Homo sapiens: one gene and its partner. The protein of the gene in region 2 interacts with the protein of the main gene of each other region in a pairwise test. Each region holds a gene or a part of one and is shown on either strand. Other genes may lie near its edges.

Region 1 (7,989 bases), on a different chromosome or scaffold from region 2:
AAACCACTGACCCTAACACTGAAGGCTCTCCCACAGTCTGGCCCCAACCTGCCTTCCAACTCCTTTCTCACCACTTCTTATCTTCACATACTCAATGCTCCACACAATTGGAACTGTTTTCTGAATCTGCTTTGCTCACAGTTTTCACTGCCTGGAATGCCCTTCAGCCCAGGCATTTCCTATTTAGAATCCATTCAGACTTCAAATACAACTCACTCTCCAAGTGTTGCTTTGTCTACCCAGCTAGAAATAACACTTTGAATGCCTACAGCATCACAGCTATATACCTCTTGTGACAAATCTCCTTTTCTAGCTTGTATTGACCTTCTTTCCTATGATAGGGAAACTTTTTTGTTATCTACATTATCTCTGCATCCCCAGGGTGACTAGGAATTCTTGGCCCATAACAAGCACTCAAATTAGTGTTAGGCAACCAAATGGATACATCAGTCATCGATCAAACACCCTTGGTTCCTACATTACATTCCCTTTACTCCTTAACTCTTCTTAGCTTTTTTCTTTGCCAATGTTATTTTTACCTTAACATTCTAAATGGCATTCCAAGATACTTGGATTTTTACAGTGAGAACGTTAGTTTTGTAAACAGAAAAATTAAGAAAAATCCTTTTAACATAAACATGACTGAAAAAGTATAGCAGCAGGAGTTGGTGAGTAAGTGCTATCCTTTTCTGTCTCAACAGTCTCTTCCCTCTTCACGAGATGATCATGGAAATAGGAACCTGCATGAAAGAACTCTGCCTTCTCAGTTGCCTAGGAAGAAAAACTCTGCAGGCCAGGTGTGGTGGCTCACACCTGTAATCCCAGCACTTTGGGAGGCTGAGGCAGGCGGATCACGAGGTCGAGAGATCGAGACCATCCTGGCCAATATGGTGAAACCCCATCTCTACTAAAAATAAAAAAATTAGCTGGACATGGTGGTGCACGCCTGTAGTCCCAGATACTCGGGAGACAAATCGCTTGAACTCGGGAGGCGGAGGCTGCAGTGAGCCGAGATCATGCCATGCACTCCAGCCTGGCAATGGAGTTAAATTCCACCTCAAAAAAAAAAAAAAAGAAATCAAACTTCACCCTGTCCAAGTTCCATACACACACCAACGTAGCATTCTGAAAATCATCACCCCAGTATTATTTCAGATTTTTATACTACATTTACATGCCATTATAGCCAAGATAAAATATCACAACTCTGCCTTAGTGAGGCAACCTCTAACATATAGCTCCAACTTAAGTGCTGCATAAAATGTGTAGGAAACGTTTATAAGGAAATAGGATACACCGTCACTGCAACTCCTCTATACACTGTAATAGTAATCTTCTATTTTAATGAATTTTAAATACATTATTTGGATATATAAAAATAGAAATATACTAGAAGACTGTGACATACCTGTGGATTTTCCAAACGCTTTAAATATTCTTCAAATGATCCTTCTATAAACTGCAAAAAATAAATCTATTAGAAATGTCATCTAACATATATGCCAAAACAGTTAACCGCTTCGCTGTGTAAACATTCACTGTGAATTACTGAGTTTGTACATAAACCTAAAATACCTCAGTATTATTTAAAAATATGTACATAATCTAATTATGAAAACATATAGCAATCATTAAAGACTATAAACATACAAAAGAATTTAAAGAAGGAAATTCTGTCAGGAAAGGTTTCCTGAAAGAAGAGTGACTCAAGATGAATGCTGGACAGGATCTGGATGGCAACAGGCAGCTGATACTCTACAGAGAGGGCCAATGTGGCGTGAGGAGGAAGAGGAACACTGTGTTGGGAAGACAAGCAATCTGGCCAGCTGGAGCAGGACAACCTGTTGTGGAACTGAGTGGGAGAAGAACCCAAAGGGGGGCCTGTTTACAGAGGGCCTTGAGCCCAGGCAGGACTTGAAGGCTAGATGAGAAAGGCCATTCAAGGCCACTTCAGGTGACATTCTGAACTGAGAAATTATATGATGAAAGCAGTGCTTTAACTTGGTAGTGACCAGTGTGTAGAAGGGAATAAAACAAAGACTGACTTACAAGCTAAGAAATAGTATAGCTTAATAATACAGATAAGAGTACTCATTGTCTCTCAAGTGATACTAGAAAGAGCGATGAGAACTAGTAAGGCGAAAAATATTTTGAAGCATCAACAAAATTTTTCTAATACAGCTTGCTTCATCGCTTCATTGTTACTTTGACATAAAAACAGTTTATTCAAGCTGTGTAATAACACAACCTTTTTTATGTTTCTTTAATAGCAATCGCACTCATTTGAGAAATCTCTAAAAGTCATTTGTTGAACCACCAAATTCAATTGCGTTTAAATTACAGTCCCAGTTGATTTAGCAGAGATATACTTAAAGACATTAAAGTATACTCCCTTGTCTATAAAATCTTTTAAGCACCCTTGGATTTTAAGATTGAGATTCTTTCATAGATTATATAATGTCAAATTGCCAAAAATATCTTAAATTTCGAAAGATATTTATAATAAAAGAGCCATATATATTAAAGAGCCCACCAATAAAGGGCTACTGTTCTGTATTAGATGATTATAGGTCTAAGGAAAAAAAAAACACAGAACCATTTAAAGTTACTAGAGACTGCAGAATTCTGACACAAGCCTGCATCCTCTCTGAGAGTCTCCTTTCTGAGCAGAAAGCGTCCACCTATGCCATGGCTGAACAATGTCAGTAACAAGGCATAATACTTTCTACAACATCTCTTTCCAATTCTGGACAACTGAAACTGCTTGAAGGTTCATAAAAGGAAAGTGAAACTTTTCCCCATGGAACTTTCAACCTCTGATCATACCTCATAAAATTATATGGACTAAGGCCAGGCACGGTGGCTCACGCCTGTAATCCCAGCACTTTGGGAGGCCGGGGCAGGCAGAGCATGAGGTCAGGAGATCGAGACCATCCTAGCTAACATGGTGAAACCCCATCTCTACTAAAAATACAAAAAATTAGCCTGGCGTGATGGTGCCAGGCACCTGTAGACCCAGCTACACTGGAGGCTGAGGCAGGAGAATGGCATGAACCCGGGAGGCGGAGCTTGCAGTGAGCCAAGATGGCGCCACTGCACTCCAGCCTGGGCGACAGAGCGAGACTCTGTCTCAAAAAAAAAAAATTATATGGACTAAAAAAAATATATGCAAAACACTTAATGCCTGGCATATAGTAAGCACCTCAACCAATGTTAGCAATGTCCATTATTATCAACACAGTTTTACCCTCTGGGGCCAATGATTAATAAGAATTAATTTAAAGACCATTCCACCTCCCCACTTCCCTTCTCTACCACACCTCTGCACTCTCTTATCTAGCCTCTGCGTTACCAGGTTTTTTTAATAAAACAAGGTTTCAAGCCTATCATTTGCAAAGTATTATATCAACATTCTCTACCAGTCAACTGGGGGAAATAACACCCAAAGTTGTCAGATTACATAATTCTAGGTCTTAAAACCAGTAAGTAATAAATCCTGTAAGACTTTGAATGTAAAATGAAAACAGGTCACTGTGGCATCTTATTTCACATACTACTGAGAAAATTATATTAAGCTGTTATACAACATTTTATTAACTATTAATCACTACTTACATAATTATAATGTTCTGACATGTGAGTTCACACTGAACCCTGAAAATTAAAAACCTATGAATGCCTTCTGATAAAATTAAGGGTTCAGCATTACTTACACTCAGCGTATTTTTTACACTGCAAGTCTGAATTTTTTTTTTTTTTTTTTTGAGACAGAGTCTCACTCTGTCACCCAGGCTGTGGTGCAGCGGCGCAACTCGGCTCACTGCAACCTCTGCCTCCTGGGTTCGAGCAATCCTCGTGCCTCAGACTCAAGAGTAGCTGGGACTCAGGCATGTGCCACCATGCCACTACTTTTAGTAGACACAGAGTTTTGCCATGTTGGCCAAGCTGGTCTTGAACTCTTCACCTCCCAAAGTACTGGGATTACAGGTGTGAGCCACCATGCCCAGACTGAATTTTTTTTCTTTTAATTTATAGGGAGTTACCCATCACAGAAACCACTATTAATCACAACACCCCCAATTCCCTGACCATGTCAGACAAAGCCCACTCTTAGTATGCAAGGGCCTTGTCCAGGTCATCTTTCCATCCCCCACAGCTCAGCGTCTTATCCATCATAGTAGCTTTCTAAATGTCCAAATAAATGCAAAACATAAAATAGCCTAGAAAACAACATAACTGAATATAACTAGATTAAGTTCAATAGAGAAGTTTTTTTAATAAGTGTTATTTTCATAACCCGCATTAAGATCCAGCCTGTGAAATTCTACTAGAACACTTCTAAAAGCCAAAATGTAAAACCAAGTCAAGACACCATTACATGTTTGAAATTACAAGTTACCGCTTCAAATTTCTCTCTGTTCTCTCGAAGATAGTGAATACAGGCCATTCTGACTTCAACATGGCGAGACTGAGAGTGCAATACCTAAAAAGAAAAGGCAACAAACACACTATTAAGCATTTAGTTAAAAGTTACAACCTAATGTCTTCTTTTACACCCAAAATAATCTGACAACCAATAGATTATCAGTCTTTCTCCATTTCCCTTTCTATAATTTCGATATCTTTACTCATTCCTACCTCTTCTTCTAACTAAGCACAGCGAAGACATGACATATACAAACAATACTACTTCTTAAGCCAAATTTGTAAAGAATTTATTAGCCTTTCTCCTTTAGGACATTTTTGTAAATTTAGGACACTCTCTTCCCTTGGCCTTCCCTCCACAATAACTTTACTCTTCACAAAGAAGAGCTAACAAAATCCATGCTACGCCACGCTCAACTTCATCCTATACATATTGAAAAAGACAAACTGGCAACTTCTGTAGGAATGTATTTTGAGGCTTTCAGCCTGTAAGAGGCCGATTTATTTTTCCCATTAATTCTGAATCCACTTAGAGGCTCTGTGTAAAAATTTAAGTCCACTATGGTTTCAGAAAAATTAAGGCACTCATTCTTTCCTTGGTGATCAAGCTTATAAGACAAGAAAGAACATCCAAGTAGGCAGCATAGGGGGTGCAAAAATGTTGTGTGGTATCATCCCAAGAGGTTTGGGGTTTGTTTTTATGCCCTAAATTGTAAAGTACCAACCTACAAAGTATGATCCAGATCCTCTCACTCTGCAGTTTACATTTTCTTCTATTAAACAACCAGTTCAACAAAAAGATAACTTACTGGCATGTGGTCTTTTACCAAAATTCTAAAGCTGTGAATTGAAACAACTATTTCTTTTTTTTTTTTTGAGACGGAGTCCTGCTCTGTCACCCAGGCTAGAGTGCAGTGGCGCAAGCTTGGCTCTCTGCAACCTTCACCTCCCAGGTTCAAGCGATCTTCCTGCCTCAGCCTCCTGAGTAGCTGGGATTACAGCCAACTACCACGGCGCTTGGCTAATTTTTGTATTTTTAGTAGAGACAGGGTTTCACCATCTTGGCCAGGCTGGTCTCAAACTCCTGACCTCGTGATCCGCCCACCTCGACCTCCCAATGTGCTGGGATTACAACAGGCATGAGCCACTGTGCCCAGCCTGAAACAACTATTTCTTATCCAATGCTTCCTTCTAGCTAGCTCCCAATTCTTTTTTCCCCCACCAGGCTGGAGTGCAGTGGTGCAATCTCAGCTCACCGCAACCTCCGCCTCACAAGTTCAAGCGATTCTCCTGCCTCAGCCTCCCGAGTAGCCGGATTACAGGAGCTGCCATGTCCGGCTAATTTTTCTTTCTTTCTTTTTTTTTTTTCCGGCTCATTTTTCTATTTTTAGTAGAGACAGGGTTTCACCATGTTGGGCAGGGTGGTCTCAAACTCCTGACCTCAGGTGATCTGCCCGCCTGGGCCTCTCAAAGTGCTGGGATTACAGACATGAGCCACCACGCCCGGCCCTAGCTCCCAATTATTTAACATGCTTAAAGGAGATTAAAATTCTTTTCTATTACTGGGTATCTCAAATAAAGATATTCCTGTACCGTAAAGGGTTATGGTTTAAAAAAAAAAAACTCAGACACACTTAAAGTAACACATTTCAAACTACCATCAAGGCCTCTTGAGAATTTATATTAATAGAAAGTATCTTTAAAAGTTACAGATCCTGGCCGGGCACTGTGGCTCACGCCTGTAATCCCAGCACTTTGGGAGGCCGAGGAGGGTGGGTCCCCTGAGGTCAGGAGTTTGAGACTAGCCTGGTCAACATGGTGAAAACCCCATCTCTACTAAAAAATACAAAAAAAAAAAAAAAATTAGCCAGGTGTGGTGGTGCGTGCCTGTAGTCCCAGCTACCTGGGAGGCTGAGGCAGGAGAATGGCTTGAAACCAGGAGGCAGAGGTTGCAGTGAGCCGAGATCGTGCCAGGGCACTCCAGCCTGAGTGACAGAGTAAGACTCTGTCTCAAAAAAAAAAAGTTACAGATCCAATTGAGTGGTTCTCCCTTTACGTTTAGCATGAGTAGAGCATTTGGGAAAAGGGAGGCTCCAGCTGTGCATTCTACAGCTCTCTTGGATCACAACCAAGGCTCATTTATACCCACAGAACCGGCACAACTGCCTGGACGCCTAGTATGTCCTATTACGCTGAGATACACTGAAAATGCACCTGTTGAGGTTAGCAATTAGTTTGTTTTCAGTGTAATAACTGGTTTTCAGTTTAACTGATTCTACCTTCACTGCTGTTCTTGGACACTATTAAACTATATTCTTATATATTCTAAGAGTATGTGACCAAAAAGGACTATCTATATATAAAAATAACCACCGTAGAATTTTTTTGCCAATTCAACAAATGACATTTAGCAACACTTCTTTCACAGAAGCTATGTTAGACACTATCATGAATCAAGGTATTACTCGTATGAATAAACCACAGTGTCATCTGATAGGGCTTTCCTCTGCCATTAGCAACGTGGAGCTAGTCTTAAAGCCATTTACCTAGCAACAGGTGGCAAACATAAGTTAGTAAAGCTTATTTTCAATCAAAAGCAATGGTAGGCATATCTACTGGTTCTTCTCTTTTAACAAAGATTTTGGCACATACAATCTATCTGAACCTGTTGCTCAGAAGCAAAACTCTTAGCAACTTCTATAAAGTGTGAGAGTGCTGGTAATTCACAAAGTCAAGCACTGCAAGAAAAGCAAGGTTAAATGACAACTGTCTAAAATGTAAATTATTGTGCAAGGTTGATAACACTTCGAAAGAATTAAAGTAGTATGACAAATATCTCTGCAAATTAATATATACATGAAAGCAAACTAGAAGGCTTTCCCATTTTTACTTGGGACAAGATAGTGATAAATACTGGGAAAGGCTGAGACACTGTTTTAGCAAGTCCTCCAAGACTGCCCTATTTTTAGCTCCATGGCTGTGGAGCTGATTCAGGTCAGGCCTCCGGCAGGCCCAAATCCGTAAGTGTAAAAAGGAAATGGCCTATCTAAATCAGATAATTTGGAGAGAAAGACCAAAATCCTAACTCGAGTCTCCTCCCCGTCTTTAAAAACTGCCACTTAGATTATTTACTTTGATTCCTTCTTAGAAATGATGAGTATTTGTGATTTTATAGGAGAAATTGTTGGCAAAAAATATAAATTATTGGTACACATTTTAAAAGGGAAGCCTGACGCTGGTATTACTTCCTTTTTCCCACACACACACACTTTGCCTTTGGCGATGATGGCTATAACTGTAGCCTACTGAATAACTGAACTTCCCCCAAAGTTCAAGGTCTTCAGCTAAGCTCATCAGACTAAAACTGAGTCACATAACTGGGAAGGGTAGTCCCTTATGCCTAACCTAAACCCCATTACAAAATACAATAAAATGTGTTACCTGATGTAACAAAGAGTTCTTAGTGTAAACTAGCTCTTGCCCCTTTTCTACTTAAAAACAGAGATCCCACTATAATAAAAGAGGCTTCTGTATAATCAAGGCCACCGAGTATCTATGGTATGC
Region 2 (7,989 bases):
CAACCGAAATTCCATCAGAATACAACATCAACTTTTCGGGGGGATTAAAGTTCTACTGTGTTTCTAGACAGCTTAGCCTCCTAAAACTTTAAGGAGCTATAACCTCCCTGCCTGAGTCACCTAAAATTCTAGTGGGAATGCAGAAACAACGAGAAGAAGGATCTGAATTCAGTCTGGAAATAAGCTAGTGTTCAGCAGGACACTAGCTAGGAGCTTTCTCTTTACACAACTTGAAATCTTACAAGAAGTCTGAGCCCAAAATATGCAAAGTTCTATCCAGTTTATTGGCATTAGCCTGGCTAATGAATATTCACAGCTGTCAAGGTAAGCTGGGGACATCTTCATTCCAAAGTAATTGTCCTAATATTGAGATTTCTGATTCTGAAAAACAGCTTTGTTGGTGTGTTCCAAACAAAACAGGTCTAATTCGAACCTTCTCAAATGCAATTCATTGACAACTGAGAAGCAAGAGACCTGTGTTCTCAGATGAGGCCTCCTCTTAATAATTATCTAATAAAAATAGGATCTAGTAAGTAATTGGGCCACCCTAAATGAACCACTTCACTTCTCCCAGGCCTCAGTTTCCTCAACTTTAACGTGAGCAAGATGCCTTCTGTTGGTTTACCACAGTTCCTTATTTAAACCCTTTTCATGTGGAAACAGTGATAGTAACAAATACACAAGACCAGCAATGGACTTTTCCAACATTCCTAAAATAGGAAATTGTCCATTCATTTCTTACTAGCTGTATCAGGCCAAATAATGCATTATGTTTCACCTGCACTGAGTTTATGCCATCTTTTGAAAGCCTACTCTTACCAATTCGAAAGCAAAACACTGCATGGGTGGAGTTTCAGAATAATCACCCCCTCATCAGGAAAGACTGTGCCACGCTGTTACCACCTGCTTGCCCCACTTACCTTCCTTTGGCCTGGAGTAATACTTTCCAAAGGCATGGTCTTTGTCAATATTTGGATACAGATACTTCAGGGGATTCTCAGGAATATTCTCAGCAGCCATGACTTTGTAATTGCGAATGATGTCAGGGAAAGTAACAGCAGAAAGTTCTTTCTTCGTGTAGGGTTCAACCGCATGGAAGTCAGGTTCTAAAAAGGAGAAAAGCTAAGTAAATCCCATAGAACATCCCAAAATGAAAGAGGACAGAGAAATAAAACACTGCAGAGTTGATGGATTTGAGTGAACCTCATAAGAACTAATCACAATCTAAGCATTATAACATATACAGTAGACTGCTTTATTTCTAAATAAATTATAATACTGTCTCAGGGAAAATAAAGGGAGGTATTATTCTCAATAACATTCTATTTGCCATTATTTGCTTAGATTTATAAATCTGGGCAAAAAAGATTTATTAAAAACCTTTAAAAGCCTGCATCTTCAATGATGTGCTGCCCATAGGCACATAAATAACTTACTACTAAGTGGATCATCTTGGCTTAAGCCACAGATTTAAATTACTAGAGATAAACTCACTTTGTTTTTCTTTTCATATTGAAAAATCTAATTTTTTATTAAAATAAATTATGATATATAGAAAACAACATTTCAAATTAAAAATGATCCTATTTGCTACATTTCCCTGTAACCCTTAACGTAATAAACCATGGTTTAATTTACTCCCGTTCTTATTCCCAGACTGAATTCAGATCCTTCTTCCTAGCTGATACAGAATCTCCCTTTGGGTGTCGACCTTCCAGAGGCCACGGTTCAGGTGTTCTGGGGAGCCTGCTGTGGAACATGAGACTATGCTGCCATCCTAACCCTTCCTGGCTGGTAGTGTCCTGCTTGACCTTTCCTGGTTGCCAAGGGTTTTCTTCATCTCTGCTTGGTCTACTATATCTGTCTCTCAGCTGGTTCAGGAAGGGAACAGGATAAGAGGAAAAGGGCAGGTTCTAATGACTACTGCCCACGCCAGACTCTCATCTCAGCCTCCCTGCTTTTTCCTCAGAAGAAAAATAGAACAAGAAAAGTATTCCAGAAAAACAAATAGAACAAGAAGAGTATTCCTGAAAAATAAACAGAACAAGAAAGAATACCGTTCCAGAAAAAAAAAATAGAAGAGTATTCCAGAAAAACAAACAGAACAAGAAGAGTATGGCAGAAAAACAAATAGAATAAGAGTATTCCAGAAAAACAGGAGAAGAGGAATATTTCAGAAAAATAAATAGAACAAGAAGAGTATTCCATTTTGTGTCTACCCACTGAAAGTATAAAAATTACTAAAACAAATCAGTTTTTCCTCCTGCCCTTCAAACAGACCAAACTCTAAACAACAGTGAAAAGTAATCAGTTGGTCTTTATGATTTTTTCATTTACGCTGTTGAGCTTCACCCTCAGAAACCTGCTTCATAACACCAAGGTTTCTGGAGTCTTTTAGCCATGGACTCATTTGATTAAATAGAAACCCCATATATGATAAAGATAAATTTGCAGCTGCTCTGTTTGAAGGCAGGGTAGAGGCTGCCACTCGTCCCAACAGGTCCTGCATCAACTCCCTGGCTGATGATGTGTATGAAGTCTTCTCCCGAAGCCTGTCTCATCTGCACACTCTACTCTGGGATGACCCTAAGAGAATGTGGATGCTTACTCCTGTGGGAAATGTGATTCCTTCCAAGAACGGGTTGCAGATTACATTGACTCACATCCTTGATCTGCAGATAACAAACCTGATGCAAAGGAAAGAATTGGCATTGTCTTTTCAAAACCATCATTTCCACAATATGTTCCAGAGAGTGAACCACAACCACAAACATTTGTGGTGGTTTATTAAATCCTATCGGGGGCTCATTTGGGGTAAGTATAAGATCTGCAATTTCATGTCCCAAACGCACTATCTGTATGAGCTGACTGGCGGCGATGAAGAGGGACTTCACACACATGGAATGGTGGGACTATGTGCTCAAACTCCCACTCACCGCCTCCGTTCTGGGACCGCTCCACCCATGTGAATGTGATGGCCCCTTCCCGGGAGCTCTCACTGAACCGCAGCAGGAAGGTCCCCGGCTGCTGGTCCTTCAACAGGGCACGCTCTCGCTCCTTGCTGATGAAGCCCATGATGCACCTGGATATCGAAGAGATGGACGGATGGGCTTTTAGTTCAATCATGATTTCCATTTTCATGCTAACTTACAAACCAAGAAAATGGCTGGAATGTGAGAAAAAAAACCTACGGTAAAAAACGTAGACTATTTTAAAATCTGTTCAGTTGACACTTAAGGAAGCATTTCACTTATACATGTATATACTAAGGTTTTAAAAAAAGCGATATGAACATGGTGTCAGTAGGATGCTACAGATGCTCAATAACACGTGTGGGATTAATGAGCCTTTTATTGTTCCTTTATTATTTTAAAGGCCATAACAATGTCTGAATGTATACATCTTTTTTACTGGAGAGGAAGACCTAGGCAATATATTTTCATATTTTAGCCCTTCTGATCAAGTTAAAGCTTCTGTTGAAATATCAGCCGATCCTGGCAATAAGTCAAGATAGAAATGATTTACCCAGTTAAAAGGGTTTTTCTTCCTTCCTAGGGGCCACATAGTAGGTGCTCAAAAAATTTTTGTTGAGTGAATGAATGCATGAATGGCACTCAAGAGTTGTTTTTTTTTTTTAATTTAGCTTTGCCAATACATATACTTGTACTAAGAAAGTGTAAGGTTAATGTTATGAGGTTCTACTCTTCTGAAGCCCTGAAGGGGCAGCCTATAAATGCGCACTCCTGTGAGATTCACACACGCCTAGTCAAATACTGAAGCTGGACTCAGGCCTTGTCTCAACCTCGCAGCACTAAAAATATGTTTCAAAATACATCTATCGGTGGCCCTTACCCATCATTCCAGAGAGGGAGCAGGTGTTTTTTAATGAGTTCTAGGATGCTTTCAATCCAAAGCCAGAAGGGAAAATTTTTATCATTTATATTTTCCTGAAAGTATACAAATGCAGACATTATGAACAAAAATCTAAAACAATGACTTACCATGGCCCCTCCCACCATCATTTGCAAAGACTCCCCAGGTGCCAAGGATGGAACTGTCCCATTCAGCACAGCAATGGGATCCCTCCCCTGGCAGGGAATATCAAGTTCCCTCCCCGCTCTTATCAGCATTCAGACCAGGAGCTCTCCAGAGCTCTCCACTTCCCTGGGCCGGGCTCTGCTTCCCTTTCCAAACAGTAGCAAGCTAGCCTGGGGGTGACCTCCAGCGTGACTCACGGAAACACAAGCTGCCCCACACTAGCAAAATCCAGCAGTGCAAGCTGGTCCGCACTGTCTGGTGACTCCAGCAGAATCTAAATGTTCCCCGCAGTGGGCCCCTCTGCTCGAGCAGGCCGTTAAACTCGTCTGGCTGGTCAGGCTGCGCCACCCAGCCCACAACATACATTTCACACAGAAATGGCTAAAACACTGCTGGGCAGGGGTCCAGCGTGAGTGAACAGAAGCCTCATTTCAGATATGAAAGAATGTTATCACTCAGGCAGGTGCTTCCTGTCAGACTCCTGCTCGGAGACCAACCTCCTGCACTGAAGAAAAGTAAACAACTTGCCCGAGGGGCTCCTTGGCCAGAGAAGAACACGCCAAAATAAGCAAACAGTTAAGTAACTATCACAGCAAGAAACATGAGAACCTCAACCAAGAGCAAAAAGGACTTAGAGAGCATAAAACCCAGACAGTCCTCACCTTACAAAACCTCGTCCACGGAATGAGACCATCGGGGCTGGCGTTAGGACCTAAACAAATAAAAACCAGATTTTTCAGCAAACAGAAACTGATTCTAAAGCTTTGGTTGGACGGATGGCTCTTGTATTTGCTCTCAAGGAAAAGAGCCAAACACCCAACAAAGATTGTATGTACACAGTTGACATTTTCGGATACCTTAATGCCAAATTAACTGAGCAATTATAATACGTGCTGTAAGAGGGCGGAATTTAAATGGTCTAAAATATGTATATGTTGGTTTGAGTTTAATGGCAGAAAGGAATGGATGGCAGATTCCTGGGCACCACGATATGAGAGTTTTTAGGGAAAGCGGAAACATCACAAAGCCTTACCATCTGCTCTCTCCCTCCCCAGCCCCCCTTTTCCCTCCCTCCTCTAAAGAGAGGACAGTCCTTTTAATGCCTCTTCATGTTACACTTCCTTCCAAGACCATCAGCTGACTTTGCCTTTTGCACTAAATCAAAGGTGTTCTGCTGGGCCTCCTAGAGAAGCCTCCCTATCCAGTGCCTCTTCCCACTGCCTTCCTCTGCTGCTCAGCAGAGCCCCCTCTCCCAAGGATCCTACAGAATTTTTTTCAAAGTTCAACCTAGGTGCCCAAGATCACCCCTAGATCTTCAATGTAACTGATACTTGACTTTACAAGTTTATTTTAGACATTATTTATGCATTTCCCTCAGCTTTCCTCCAAATAGGACATGGGCTCAGGCAGTCTGATGCAAATCAAAAACCAAGTGAGAGAAACGAGAGGAAGAAGCCCGGGGTTATTAGCTACACAAATTAAAGCAGCCTGGGCGAGAAGAGGCGGTAAGCCCATTATCGGTCTTCAAAGAGAACTACAAATGAGCCATTACAGCTAGAAAAGATATCCTTCTTAACTCTCACCAAATAAAGAAATGGAATAAGGGGATTTTGTACTTGTATTAAACAGCACAAGACCACCACTGTGACAGCTGCATATCCAAGAGAAGAAGGCACTGTTGAAAGTCACTGAGTTAGGAAGAGCCTACTGCTGTTTGGAGTAAATGCAGTGCTGCTCTACAGAAAGCAAATCTGGATACAAGTTGTCCACGGATTTTTAAAGAAATAGTTCAGATAGCCTCACTCACTGAAAGATCTGACCTTGAGACTAGTGGATCTTTGATTTGTTTAGTATGAAGGACTAATAAATGCACTGACATTAACCACTGAAAGGGAATTATCTACCACTGTCTAGACTCTGTCCAATCAGGCAAAACTGCAGATCAAAAGAGGCATCCTCTTGTGGGGACGGCATCCTCTGCTACCTGGGCCCCACCTGAGGCAAGGGCCCTGGGTTTATGCTGCAGTGGGCAAGCCCCAGGACTTTATTTCTCATCATGTCAGGGACTTCCTTTTTTCTCCCCAAGGTTAATGGTTAATAGGCCTTCATCTTTCTCATCCAGGAACTTATTTCAGCCACAAATAATATATTTTACATAATTCATAAAACTTTCCCTTGGGAATTCATCTCAGAAATCTTAATATGAGACAATGAGGAACGGATTCATTTAAATGTTATCAGGTCTATATTTCTTTCTAAGGTGACATATGATTCTCACTTAGCTATAATAAACTATAGCTTGAAAAGCTGACAGATTTTAGTACTTTTTTACCTTTAACAAAATAGCAGAGGGGAAAAGAGCAATTAGAGAGATATTTTTATGAATTTCAATTTTTATAAACATAACAAGTTAATATGCATATACCAAGAAGCTTCTCTCCCAACATGTTCAGCTGGTCCACATTGAGACCTCTTTTGGTGACAGAAGAAAACTGCCAACTCAGCACTTCTGAAAGCTGAGCCCATCGTGCACATGGTGGAGTCAGGAAGAAGGACAGATTCTAGAGAGAAAACACCCAAAATCTAAGGGTTACTACAGAGACACCAGTCACAAGTGTGGCACTAAAACATATGTCCATCCCAAAGTTCAATTCTAGTTTATATGACACACAGGTGCTTTCACAGTAGGGGAAGAGAAATACAGTCAATTTTCATTATTTACAGATGCACATTTGTGAACTTGTTTACTCACTAAAATTTACTTGTAACTCCAAAATCTAAATACATGGCATCTTTGGGGTCATTTGAAGACACACCCGTGCACACACAGCAGCACACAGCAGCAAAGAATTCGAGTCTCTTAACACGCTTCCAACTGAAGCCAAACAAAATGACACTCGCTTCCTGTTTCACCTCTCATAAGAAAAACGTGTCCTTTTTGAAGCCTATTTAGCGCCATGTTTTTTGCATTTTGTGACTGCTGTTGGTGATCCCTGTTTAAAATGGTGCCCGAGCATAGTACCACAGTGTGGTCTACTGTTCCTAAGCATGGGAAGGCTGGGATGTGCCTTATGGAGAAAATACATGTGTGAGGCAAGCTTCACTCAGGCATGAGTTACAGTGATCCTAGCTATAGGTGTAATGTTAATGCCTCAACAAGTGTATTAGATAAGGTGTCTTTAAACAGAAACACACATAAACAATGTTATGCATTGATGGGTTGACAAAAATGTTGTGACCAGAGGCTTGAAGGAACCTAGCCTCGTAGTTCCCTTAGGAGCAACAATTCATTATTTGCTAGTTAAGTGTTCCTGGTGACTTTAAAAAACATAAGTACTTTGAATAATTATAAATGACTGTAATTAATTAACAGTGAGTATCCACACTCTAAGAATGGAGCATGCTTGTTTAGTAGATGTATACATTTTAAAAATAATAACAATAAAGTGGTATGGAATCACTGACTGCCCTAGCTTACCCACATGGGAGAAAAAACGTAATTCTCATTTCAAATACATATCCATGCTTCATATTCCCAGATTTACTCAAAAGCCTTAGAAATACCACAGGAGCTTTGTCACTTCTCCCTTAACAACTGGCCATTGGGGCTATTTCAGAGATGCAGCAGTGAGAGCGTGGGGTCTCTGCTTAACCCTGGGACCAAAGCAAATGTGTTTTCCATACCCTGGGTTCCGCCACCAGCATGTTGTACCAAAGGATGGAGGCCCAACCGCTCGGGAGCTGGCTGACGTTGGAGATCACCACAACGGGCAGAGAGGTCGTCTAAAGGATGACAAAGACCTTGAAATCATCTGAATCACAGAAATGTCACCTTCAGATAACTGCTTAGCCTCAACTAAAAGCAGGGGATTATTTGTAAATTTGTACATATTTAATACTTGAAAATGAGAAGTGTTAAGTTCTGTTCTTCTGTCCAGTTTAACTTGTCTT

What was found. Proteins that work in one complex are often made in the same cells at the same time.
Region 1: the proteins of STAT1 (region 2) and OTUD4 interact in binary tests that used the Homo sapiens proteins (3 or more experiments, as listed by UniProt).

What each region holds. Positions count from the first base shown.
Region 1 is NC_000004.12:145,170,262-145,178,250, forward strand, and holds part of OTUD4 (OTU domain-containing protein 4), read right to left. Parts: intron 7,898-7,989; exon of another isoform or gene 7,867-7,897; intron 4,484-7,866; coding exon 4,400-4,483; coding exon of another isoform or gene 4,379-4,399; intron 1,460-4,378; coding exon 1,409-1,459; intron 1-1,408.
Region 2 is NC_000002.12:190,975,920-190,983,908, forward strand, and holds part of STAT1 (signal transducer and activator of transcription 1-alpha/beta), read right to left. Parts: intron 7,822-7,989; coding exon 7,723-7,821; intron 6,600-7,722; coding exon 6,464-6,599; intron 4,751-6,463; coding exon 4,701-4,750; intron 3,948-4,700; coding exon 3,853-3,947; intron 3,083-3,852; coding exon 2,937-3,082; intron 1,107-2,936; coding exon 921-1,106; intron 1-920. UniProt on the Homo sapiens protein: Signal transducer and transcription activator that mediates cellular responses to interferons (IFNs), cytokine KITLG/SCF and other cytokines and other growth factors.